Linked DNA regions of Homo sapiens: region 2 is linked to region 1. Evidence: fine-mapped expression QTL. Tissue or cell type: whole blood. Region 1 holds a variant in brackets; the other region holds the start of a gene. All regions are shown on one strand. Distances are from middle to middle.

The links. PIP is the estimated chance that this variant, and not a neighbour inherited with it, causes the effect.
Region 2: ATXN2L starts here. The variant in region 1 is fine-mapped to the expression of ATXN2L in whole blood (INTERVAL, PIP 0.90).

The regions. Positions count from the first base shown.
Region 1 is chr16:29,014,724-29,019,868 of GRCh38, forward strand. No RefSeq gene overlaps it. Among named protein-coding and RNA genes, the nearest start is that of LAT, 32 kb to the left of the region's middle. The variant G/T (reference allele first, on the strand shown) is at 3,174.
Region 2 is chr16:28,820,144-28,825,288 of GRCh38, forward strand. It overlaps ATXN2L (ataxin 2 like), which reads left to right and starts at 2,856. Exons shown (of 22, transcript NM_007245.4): 1 at 2,856-3,415. The coding sequence starts at 3,117. It overlaps LOC124903672 (a long non-coding RNA gene), which reads right to left and starts at 3,899. Exons shown (of 2, transcript XR_007065042.1): 1 at 3,751-3,899. RefSeq lists enhancers at 2,135-2,871, 2,383-2,592 and a silencer at 2,913-4,062.

The DNA.
Region 1 (5,145 bases):
CTGCTCCTACTCATTCCACCCTCTATCCAACCTCCAATTCCCCCTGCTATTCTCCAGTCTCAGCTGGACTGTTAAGGTGATTAGGCCCTGAGGACTCTGCCCTCATGCATGGATTAATGTCGTTATTGCCAGAGCGGGTTGTTATAAAAGCAAGTTCAGCTCTCTCTCTTGCTGTCTCCTGCAAATGCTTTCTTGCCCTTCCGCCTTCCACCATGGGCTGACACAGCAAGAAGGCCCTTGCCAGATGCAGGCCCCCAAGCTTGGACTTCCCAGGCTCCAGAAGTGTATTTTTAACAATTTCTTTTTCTGGCCAGGGACAGTGGCTCATGCCTGTAATCCCAGCACTTTGGGAGCCTGAGGCCGGCAGATCACTTGAGGTCAGGAGTTCGAGACCAGCCTGGACAACATGGTGAAACACTGTCTCTACTCAAAACACGGTGGGCACCTGAAATCCCACCTACTTAGGAGGCTGAGGCAGGAGAATTGCTTGAACCCAGGAGGCGGAGGTTGCAGTGAGCCGAGATCACACCACTGCCCTCCAGCCTGGGTGACAGAGCAAGACTCCATCCCCTGCCCCCCAAGTGATCTGCTGGCCTCCATCTAAAAAATAATAATAATACAATTCTCTTTCTTATTAATTACCCTGTCTGTGGAGTTCTGTTATAGTGGTACAAAACAGACTAAGACATATGGATATACCATATTTTGTTTATCCCCTCATCCTTCAATGGCCAGTTGGGTTGCTTCCACCCTGGCTACTGTGAGCAATGCTGCTATGAGCATGGGAGTGCAGCTACGTCTTCAAGATCTAGCTTTTAGGCCAGGCACGGTGGCTCACGTGTGTAATCCCAGCACTTTGGGAAGCCAAGGTGGGTGGATCACCTGAGGTCAGGAGTTCAAGACCAGCCTGGCCAACATGGTGAAAATCTGTCTCTACCAAAAATACAAAAATTAGCTGGGTGTGGTGGTGTGCACCTATAATCCCAGCTACTTGGGAGGCTGAGGTAGGAGAATCGCTTGAACCTGGGAGGAGGAAGACTGAGCTCCAGCCTGCCGGCCTGGGCGACAGAGCAAGACTTTGTTAAAAAAAAAAAATTCTAGCTTTTAATTCTTTTAAATATATACCCAGAAGTGGGATTGCCAGATCACATGGTAGTTCTGTTTTTAACATTTTGGGGAACTGCCATCTTATTTTTCATAGAGGTTGCACCATTTTGCATTCCCACCAACAGAGAACAAGAGCTCCAATTTCTCTATGTCCTTCCCAACGCTTGTTATTCTCTGTTTTTTTTTTTTTTTTTTTTTTTTTTTTTTTGACGGAGTCTCACTCTGTTGTCCAGACTGGAGTGCAATGATGTGATCTCGGCTCACTGCAACCTCCGCCTCCCGGGTTCAAACAATTCTCCTGCCTCAGCCTCCCAAGTAGCTGAGATTATAGGCACATGCCATCATGCCCAGCTAATTTTTTTTTTTTTTTGGTATTTTTAGTAGAGATGGGGTTTCACCATGTTGGCCAGGCTGGTCTCGAACTCCTGACTTCAGGTGATCCTCCTGCCTTGGCCTCCCAAAGTGTTGAGATTACAGGCGTGAGTCACTGCACCCGGCCCTGTTTTTTGATCATAACCATTCTAGTGGGTATAGAGTGGTATCTCATGGGTTTGATTTGCATTTTCCTAAGGATTTGTGGTATTGAGCATCTTTTCATACATTTGTTGGCCATTTGTATATCATCTTTGGAGAAATGCCTATTCAAGTATTTTGCGCATTAAAAATTTATTTTTATTTATCTTTTTAGAGTCTAGAGTCTTGCTATGTTGCTCAGGCTGGCCTCAAACTCCTGGGCTCAAGCAATCCTTCTGCTTCTGCCTCCCTAAGTACTGGCATTATGGGCATGAGGCACCATGCCCAGCCTGCCCATTCTTTAAGTTGGGTTGTTTTGTTGTTGTTGAGTTGTAGGAGTTTTTTAAAAAAATATTTAGGGTATTAACCTGTTATCAGATATATGATTTGCAAATATTTTCTCCCATTCCATAGGTTGCTTTTCACGGGGTTGACTGTGTCCTTTGATGCACAGAAGTTCTGTTTTGTTTTGTTTTGTTTTTGAGATGGAGTTTCACTCTTGTTGCCCAGGCTGGAGTGCAATGGTGCGATCTCAGCTCACTGCAACCTCTGCCTCCCAGGTTCAAGCGATTCTCCTACCTCAGCCTCCCAAGTAGCTGGGACTACAGGCTCTCACCACCATACTCAGCTAATTTTTGTTTTATTAGTAGAGACAGGGTTTTGTCATGTTGGCCAGGCTGGTCTTGAACTCCTGACCTCAGGTGATCTACCTGCCTCAGCTTCCCAAAATGCTGGGATTACAGGCGTGAGCCACCACGCCCGGCTGATGCACAGAGGTTTTTAATTTTGATGTAGTCCTATTTTACCTTTTTTTTGATGTTATTGTTGCCTGTGCCTTTCTTTTCTTTCTTTCTTTCTTTTTTTTTTTGAGACAGAGTTTCACTCTTGTTGCCCAGGTTGGATTGCAGTGGCACGATCTTGGCTCACTGCAACCTCCACCTCCTGGGTTCAAGTGATCCTTCTGCCTCAGCCTCCTGAGTATGTGGGATTACAGGCATGTGCCACCACGCTCAGCTAATTTTTGTATTTTTAGTACAGACAGGGTTTTGCCATGTTGGCCAGGCTGGTCTTGAACTCCTCACCTCAAGTGATCTGCCCACCTCGGCTCCTAAAGTGCTGGGAATACAGGCATGAGCCACCGTGCCTGGCTGCCTGTGCCTTTCTTGGTGTCATATCTAATAAATCATTGTCAAGTTCAGTGACATGAAGCTTTTTCCCTATATTTTTTTTCTAGGCGTTTTATAGTTTTAGGCCTTATATTTAAGTCTTTAAATTTTGAATTAATTTTTGTATATGGCCAGGCATGGTGGCTCATGCCTGTAATCTCAGTACTTTGGGAGGCCAAGGCGGGCAGATCACCGAGGTCGGGAGTTCGAGACCGGCCTGACCAACATGGAGAAACCCCGTCTCTACTAAAAATACAAAATTAGCCAGGCTTGGTGGTGCGCTCCTGTAATCCCAGCTGCTCAGGAGGCTGAGGCAGGAGCATCCTGGAGCCCTGGAGGTGGAGGTTGTGGTGAGCCGAGGTCGCGCCATCGCACTCCAGCCTGGGC[G/T]ACAAGAGCAAAATTCCGTCTCAAAAAAATTTTTTTGTGTGTGTGTACGGTGTATGATAAGGGTCTAACTGCATTATTTGTATGTGAATAGCCAGTTTTCCCAACACCATTTGTTGAAGATACTGCTTTTTCTGCCACTGAATGGTCTTGGCACCCTTGCCAAAGATTATTTAACCATTAATGTGAGGGTGGGCCAGGCATGGTGCCTCACGCCTGTAATCCCAGCACTTTGGGAGGCAGAGGTGAGAGGATCCTTTGAGGCCAGGAGTTTGAGACCAGCCTGGGCAATGTAGTGAAACTAGGTCTCTGCCAAAAAAAAAAAAAAAAATAGCCAGACATGGTGACACCCACATCTAGTCTCAGGTACTTGGGAGACTGAGGTGGGAGGATAGCTTGATCACAGGAGTTTGAAGTTTCAGTGAGCTACAATCATACCACTGTGTGCCAGCCTGGGCAACAGAGTGAGATCTTGTAACAAAAATAATAATAATAATAATAATAATAATAATAATAATAATAATAATAAATGTAAGGATGTATTTCCGGGCTCTCTATTCCATTAGTCTATATCTCTGTCTTTATGCCAAGTACCACATTGTTTTGATTACTGTAGCTTTGTAACACATATTGAAATCAGGAAGTAGTCTTCTTACTTCTTAAGATTTTTTAAACTTAATTTTTATTTTTTGAGACAGGGTCTCACCCTGTCACCCAGGCTAGAGTGCAGTGGTGGGTCCAGGCAATTCTCCTGCCTCAGCCTCCTGAGTACCTGGGACTACAGGTGCTCGCCACCACGCCTGGCTAATTTTTGTATTTTTAGTAGTGACGGGGTTTCACCACGTTAGCCAGGCTAGTCTCAAACTCCTGACCTCAAGTGATCCACAAGCCTTGGCCTCCCTAAGTGCTGGGGTTATAGGCATGAGCCACCTCACCTGGCCTACGATTTATTTATTTATTTATTTATTTTATTTTATTTTTATTTTTTGACACAAAGTCCCTCTCTTGTCCCCCAGGCTGGAGTGTGATGGCATGATCTCGGCTCGCTGCAACCTCTGCCTCCCAGGTTCAAGTGATTCTCCTGCCTCAGCCCCCTGAGTATCTGGGATTAAAGGCACCTGCCACCACGCCCGGCTAACTTTTGTAGTTTTCGTAGAGACAGAGTTTTACCATGTTGGCCAGGCTGTTCTAGAACTCCTGACCTCAGATGATCCACCCTCCTCAGCTTCCCAAAGTGCTGGGATTACAGGTGTGAGCCAATGTGCCCGGCCTTTTTAATTTTTTTTTTTAATTTGGTGTGATATCAGTTAGAATTAAAAAATTTTTTAATTAATATTATTTTGATTGACAAATCATAGTTGTTTACATTTATGAGATACAAGGTGATTTTTAAATTTTTTTTTTATAGAGATGAGATCTAGCTATGTTACCCAGGCTGGTCTCAAACTCCTGGCCTCAAGTTATCCACCCGGCTCCACTTCTCAAAGTGCTGGGATTACAGGCATGAGCCACTGTGCCCAGCTACACACACACACACACACACACACACACACACACACACACACACATATATATAGATATATATATTTTAATAGGCAGTACTCTGTAATCCCAGCTACTCGGTAGGCTAAGGCAGAAGGATACCTTCAGCCCAGGAGTTTGAGACCAGCCTAAAAAAAAAGAAAAGGAAAAGGCAGTATATTCCTGTGGTTCAAAATTCCAAAGGTACTAAAGATTTTAACAGAAAAATCTCTCTCCCACCTGTTCCCTAACCACCAAATTCCTGTCCAAAGTCACAGTCATTCTTATCAGTTACCCAAAGATTTTCCACACTTCTATAAGCAAATGCACGTTTAAGCAAATTTGCAGCCACTTCGTTTTTATATAAATGGTATAATTCCACGCACTGTTTGTATTTTGCTTTTTCGTGTAATGCCGTATCTTGGAGGTTTGACATCATTACCCTAAAACTTAC
Region 2 (5,145 bases), 190 kb before region 1:
ATCAGGGGAGAAGAGATGCAAACCGTAAATCCCTGGAAGCATGCCAGCATATGAAACCCCAAGTCAAAGGTCAAACCAGGGACTTGAATCTGTCAAGTCATTCACGCCTGGCCCTCTTCCAAGTGTACTTTACTTCCTTTCATTCCTGCTCTAAAACTTTTTAATAAACGTTCACTCCTGCTCTAAAACTTGCCTCTGTCTCTCCCTCTGCCTTATGCCCCTTGGTGGAATTCTTTCTTCTGAGGAGGCAAGAATTGAGGTTGCTGTAGACCCCATGCAAATTAGCTGCCACTAGCAAGGGCAAGGCAAGCTATGGAGAAAGAAGTTTCATGGGGCTAAAACTCAGAATTTGAGTGTGGAGCAGGATGGGGTAGATGGAAGGGGGTTAGAGTGCTCAGTGCTCACAATCTGTCAATGAGGGTAGAGAGGTGGCATGGCATCAGGTGGTCCAGGTAATGCCAGGAAAAAGCTGGACTGTGTTTGTTAGGGAACCCAGGAGACATGATGACCTTTAAAACACCATTTGGGCTGGGCGTGGTGGCTCATGCCTGTAATCCCAGCACTTTCGGAGGTCGAGGCGGGTGGATCACCTGAGGTCGGGAGTTCAAGATCAGCCTGACCAACATGGAGAAACCCCGTCTCCACTAAAAATACAAAATTAGCCGGGTGTGGTGGTGCATGACTGTAATCCCAGGTACTCAAGAGGCTGAGGCAGGAGAAACGCTTGAACCCGGGAGGCGGAGGTTGTGGTGAGCCGAGATCGCGCCATTGCACTCCAGCCTGGGCAATAAGAACAAAACTCCATCTCAAAAACAAACAAAAAAACATCATTTGGATCCACTCACCTTACAGATATTTCATTGAGTGCCTGCAGTGTGCTAGAGTACTGCAGAGCAAGAAATAAGTCAAGATCCTAACCCTTAGGGAGCTGACATTAGCAGGAAGACAGAATTAAAGGAGCTGTTAGAATACAGTGGGATAAATTGCTCGGCGAGCACACAGGAGGGGAAACTAGCACATCTGAAGGCAGGAGCGAGGCAGGGCGAAGGACTATTACCCAAAAAGTAAGGCAGTGTTGTAGCTAGGTGTGCATGTGTTTGGTGCAGGGGCTGGGAAGAGTTCCAATGCTAACATTTAGAGCGAAGAGATTGAGACATTGAGAGTTTCGCTGGGATTAAGACCACATGGACTTAACAGCTCCACTCCATTCTCCACGTTGCAAAGAGTAAACCTTTAAAAATGCAAATCTGACCTCTTTTCACTTGTTTTTTTGTTTGTTTTGGGGGGAAGGAGTCTTGCTCTGTCACCCAGGCTGGAGTGCAGTGGTGCGATCTGGGCTCACGGCAACCTCCGCCTCCTTGGTTCAAGTGATTCTCCTGCCTCAGCCTCCTGAGTAGCTGGGATTACAGGCATGCACCACCACGCCTAGCTAATTTTTGCATTTTTAGTAGAGACAGGGTTTCACCATGTTGGCCAGGCTGATCTCAAACTCCTGACCTCAAACCTCCCAAAGTACTGGGATTACAGACCATGCCCAGCCTCTTTTCACTTTCTTAAATAAGCTCCCCACTGCTTTGAGGATAATGTCCGTGTCTCTTACAAGACTTGGGAGCCTTTAAAACCTGATCCCAGATTAGCTACCTCTTCCCCCCTTTAATTTTATGCTTAGGACAAGCTGAGTTTTTCTTAGTTTGTCATATCCTATTTCCCTGCCTAGAAACCCATCTCCCCCTGCCCTCTTATCAGTTTTTTTTTATAATTTAAATTTTTTTTTTTTTGTAGAGACAAAGTCTCACTTTGTTGCCTAGGCTGGTCTCAAACTCCTGGCCTTAAACGATCCTTCTGCCTCGGACTCCCAAAATGTTAGGATTACAGGTATGAGCCACTGCGCCCGGCCCTCCTGTCCCTTATCTGGGTCTCCCAAAACTGGATTAAGATTAGGTGTCACTCCCATTTGCTCTTGTAGTCCTCTGTGCTTCACCTACTAGATCTCGTCAAATTCTCTGAATTCACCACTAGCATGAACTCCTCCAGAGCAGGAAGCAGTTTAATTATCCTTGTGTCCAAAACAACTAACTGAATACTCCAATGCCCAACTCATTTTGAATGAATGAAGCTGCCTTCATTGCAGGGTCGGGTGGAGGATTTTGAACTCGGAACTTTGGCCTTCAGTCTTTGTTATTACAGTTTAAAGATTCATTCTCGGGCATGGAGGAACAATTTAGGTCAAAATCACAAAAATCTGAAATAATTTAGGACGAGGCGTAAATTTATCTGCAAAGATCAACACGCTCAAACGAATCACTAATGCTCATCAGTCTTTTACTTAAAGCAAACAAGGTGGAGGGTAGCTCCTTGCGAAACCTACCACCTGCCTAAAAGCGCAGTGGCTCGGGTGGTCCAGTCCCGGAGACTTTCTTGGCACTTAAGGCTCTGCCCACGGGCCGCCAAGTGGCGGAAGAGCCTCACGCACGACGTGCCGCCTCACACTCCCGCGGAGGCATCGCGACGCAGCGACGGCGTGGGCGGAGAGGCCGGCCCTTCCTCTGGCGCCTTCGGCTCCTCCCCCTGCGCCTCACACGCTCATTGTGAAGCGACAGCGGCCGCCGGCTTCTAAGGCGGTTTGAGACCTTAAGACCCTAAATCCTTGGCGCGCGTGAGCGCCCGCGCCGCTCCTTACCCACTCCCAGGGCTAGGGGTGCGAGGTTCACCGACTTGATTCTCTCCCACTTTCCCGCCGGGAGCTAACCGCGCCGGTGTGCGCGGCACCTCGCGCCACTGCTCGCTCCTGGCCCCCCCCCCCCCCCCCCCCCCCCGGGAGCTCCCACCCGCGCGCTCCTCCCTCTCCGCTCCCCGGCGACGCGCACGCGCGCCAGCCCGGCTCGCGCCCTCTCGCTTTCCTCCAGCCGCGAGACCCCCTCCCCTTCCGCCTCGCGGCGCTTCCTCGCGCCGCGGTCTTCTCTCTCCACCCCCGACACCGCGGGGCTCCCCCCGCCCGCCCACGGCGGGCCCCGGCTGCCCGATCCCCCTCGCTTCCCGCGCTCTCCAGCGGGGCCCCAGCCCCGGCCCCCTCTCTCCCTCCCTTCTCTCTAATTCCCCTTCCGGACGCTGCCATCATGTTGAAGCCTCAGCCGCTACAACAGCCCTCCCAGCCCCAGCAGCCGCCCCCCACGCAACAGGCCGTGGCCCGTCGGCCCCCCGGGGGCACCAGCCCTCCCAACGGCGGCCTCCCGGGGCCGCTGGCCACCTCTGCGGCTCCTCCCGGGCCTCCAGCGGCCGCCTCCCCCTGCCTGGGGCCTGTGGCCGCTGCCGGGAGCGGGCTCCGCCGGGGAGCCGAAGGCATCTTGGCGCCGCAGCCGCCGCCGCCGCAGCAACACCAGGAGAGGCCGGGGGCAGCCGCCATCGGCAGCGCCAGGTGAGAAGGGTGGGCTCCGGGCGAGGGAGCCGCGGCCACCCAGAGGCTGTGGCTCGGTTCCGGTGGGGCGGACCCCGACCCGGCACCGTCAGGGGCACCGGCTGGGTGGGGAGTCCCCGTGAAGCTGGGGGAGGGCCCCCTCAGGTCCGAACAGGTCGGACGGAAAGGGTCCCCGGGCGGCCACCGGAGCACTGAGGGGCCGCGCTCGGCTCTCGGGGCCTAGTCAGGGCTCGCAGCCCCGGCCTTCAGGGGAGGCGGGGCGCATCCCGCCGGCGCCGTCGGAACGGGGAGTTGGGGGGGGGCAAGGAGCTGATCGGGGTCCCCGGTTCCATTACCACGAAGGGTCTCGCGGTCCCCGGCTTCAGCCAATGGGGAGTCTGCTGCGGGAAGGGGTCCCCGGCCGTAGCCAATGGAGGGGGGCGCGCGGCCCACAGTTTGGCCAATGGGGAGGGAGGGACTTGGGAGCGGGTTGCTGCCTCCCCCTTCCCGGTCTGGCCAGTAGGAGGGGAGCGAGGTGGGCGGGGGGACGGAAGGAGGGATGACTGGGAGGACTGCGGGCCGGGAGCCTCTGGCGCGCGCGCCCCCTTCCCGTACGTGCGCGTGGATGCTCGGTCTCATGACCCGGGCATTCGCGCGCCCCGGGAACACCTAGGGCAGGGACTAGTTCGTGGAGGGGCTCGTCTGGTGGCAGTGCATGAGTAGTGGAGGCCCTGCTCAGTTTTTCCTGTGCGAGTGTGTGTGTGTTAATGGAATTAAGAGTGGCAGCACACGCAGGCGCAGTGGGCTCTGATCGCTGGAGGTGGGGGTTCGGAAAGTCCCGTGGGTTTTAGTGCGCAGGCGCAGACCGGGCGAGGCCTCCCGGTGGATGGCTTTTGCGGCTGCGCTGTCCCCCAGCCCCGCCAGCGGCCCCCTCTTCGCCCTCAACCGCCGGTTACATCAGCCAGCGACGAGCAGGGTTACCTGGCGATTGGTGATCCCCGCAGAGTGGGTAACGGGCTGAATGAGTCATGAGGTCGAGGGGATGGGGTGTGGAGGGGATACCCCTCCTCCCACAGTTTTGAGGCGTCAGGCTGCTGAAAATGATTGTCTTTTCTGTTTGGGAGGTAATGTACCTGAGCTAGGTAGTTCCAAAGCTGCACTCCTGGAGCTTTTGCCCTCACAGCTGGCGTGGCTTTTTGGTTAATACTGTAGCATTGATCTGTTGGTAGCCTGCAGCCCTAGCCCCTTTCTCGTTGGTTCTTAGAGCAATTGACAACCATTGTTGATTGAGATCTTTTTGCTGGCATTTGGAGGAAATGTGTTTGCTGGCTTATTAATGTCTATTTTTTTCTTCCTCTACAAGGTGACAGTTTGAAAATCTTATTTATTGGCCGGGCGCAGTGGCTCACGCCTGTAATGCCAGCACTTTAGGAGGCAAAGGTGGGAGGATCCCTTGAGCCCAAGGAGATCGATACCAGCCTGGGCAACACAGATGGGAAATCCCATCTCTACTAAAAATTAAAAAAAAAAAAAGCCAGGAGTGGTGGTTCGTACCTATAGTCTCAGCCACTCGGGAGGCTGAGGCAGGAAGATCACTTGAGCCTTGGAGGTTGAGGCTACAGTGAACTGAGATCACGCCACTGCACCCCAGCCTGGGCAACAGAGGGAGACCCTGTCTCAAAAAAAATAGAAAAATCTTACTGATTAACAATTTTGTAGTCTAAATCAGCATCATCAGGTGGTATATACTT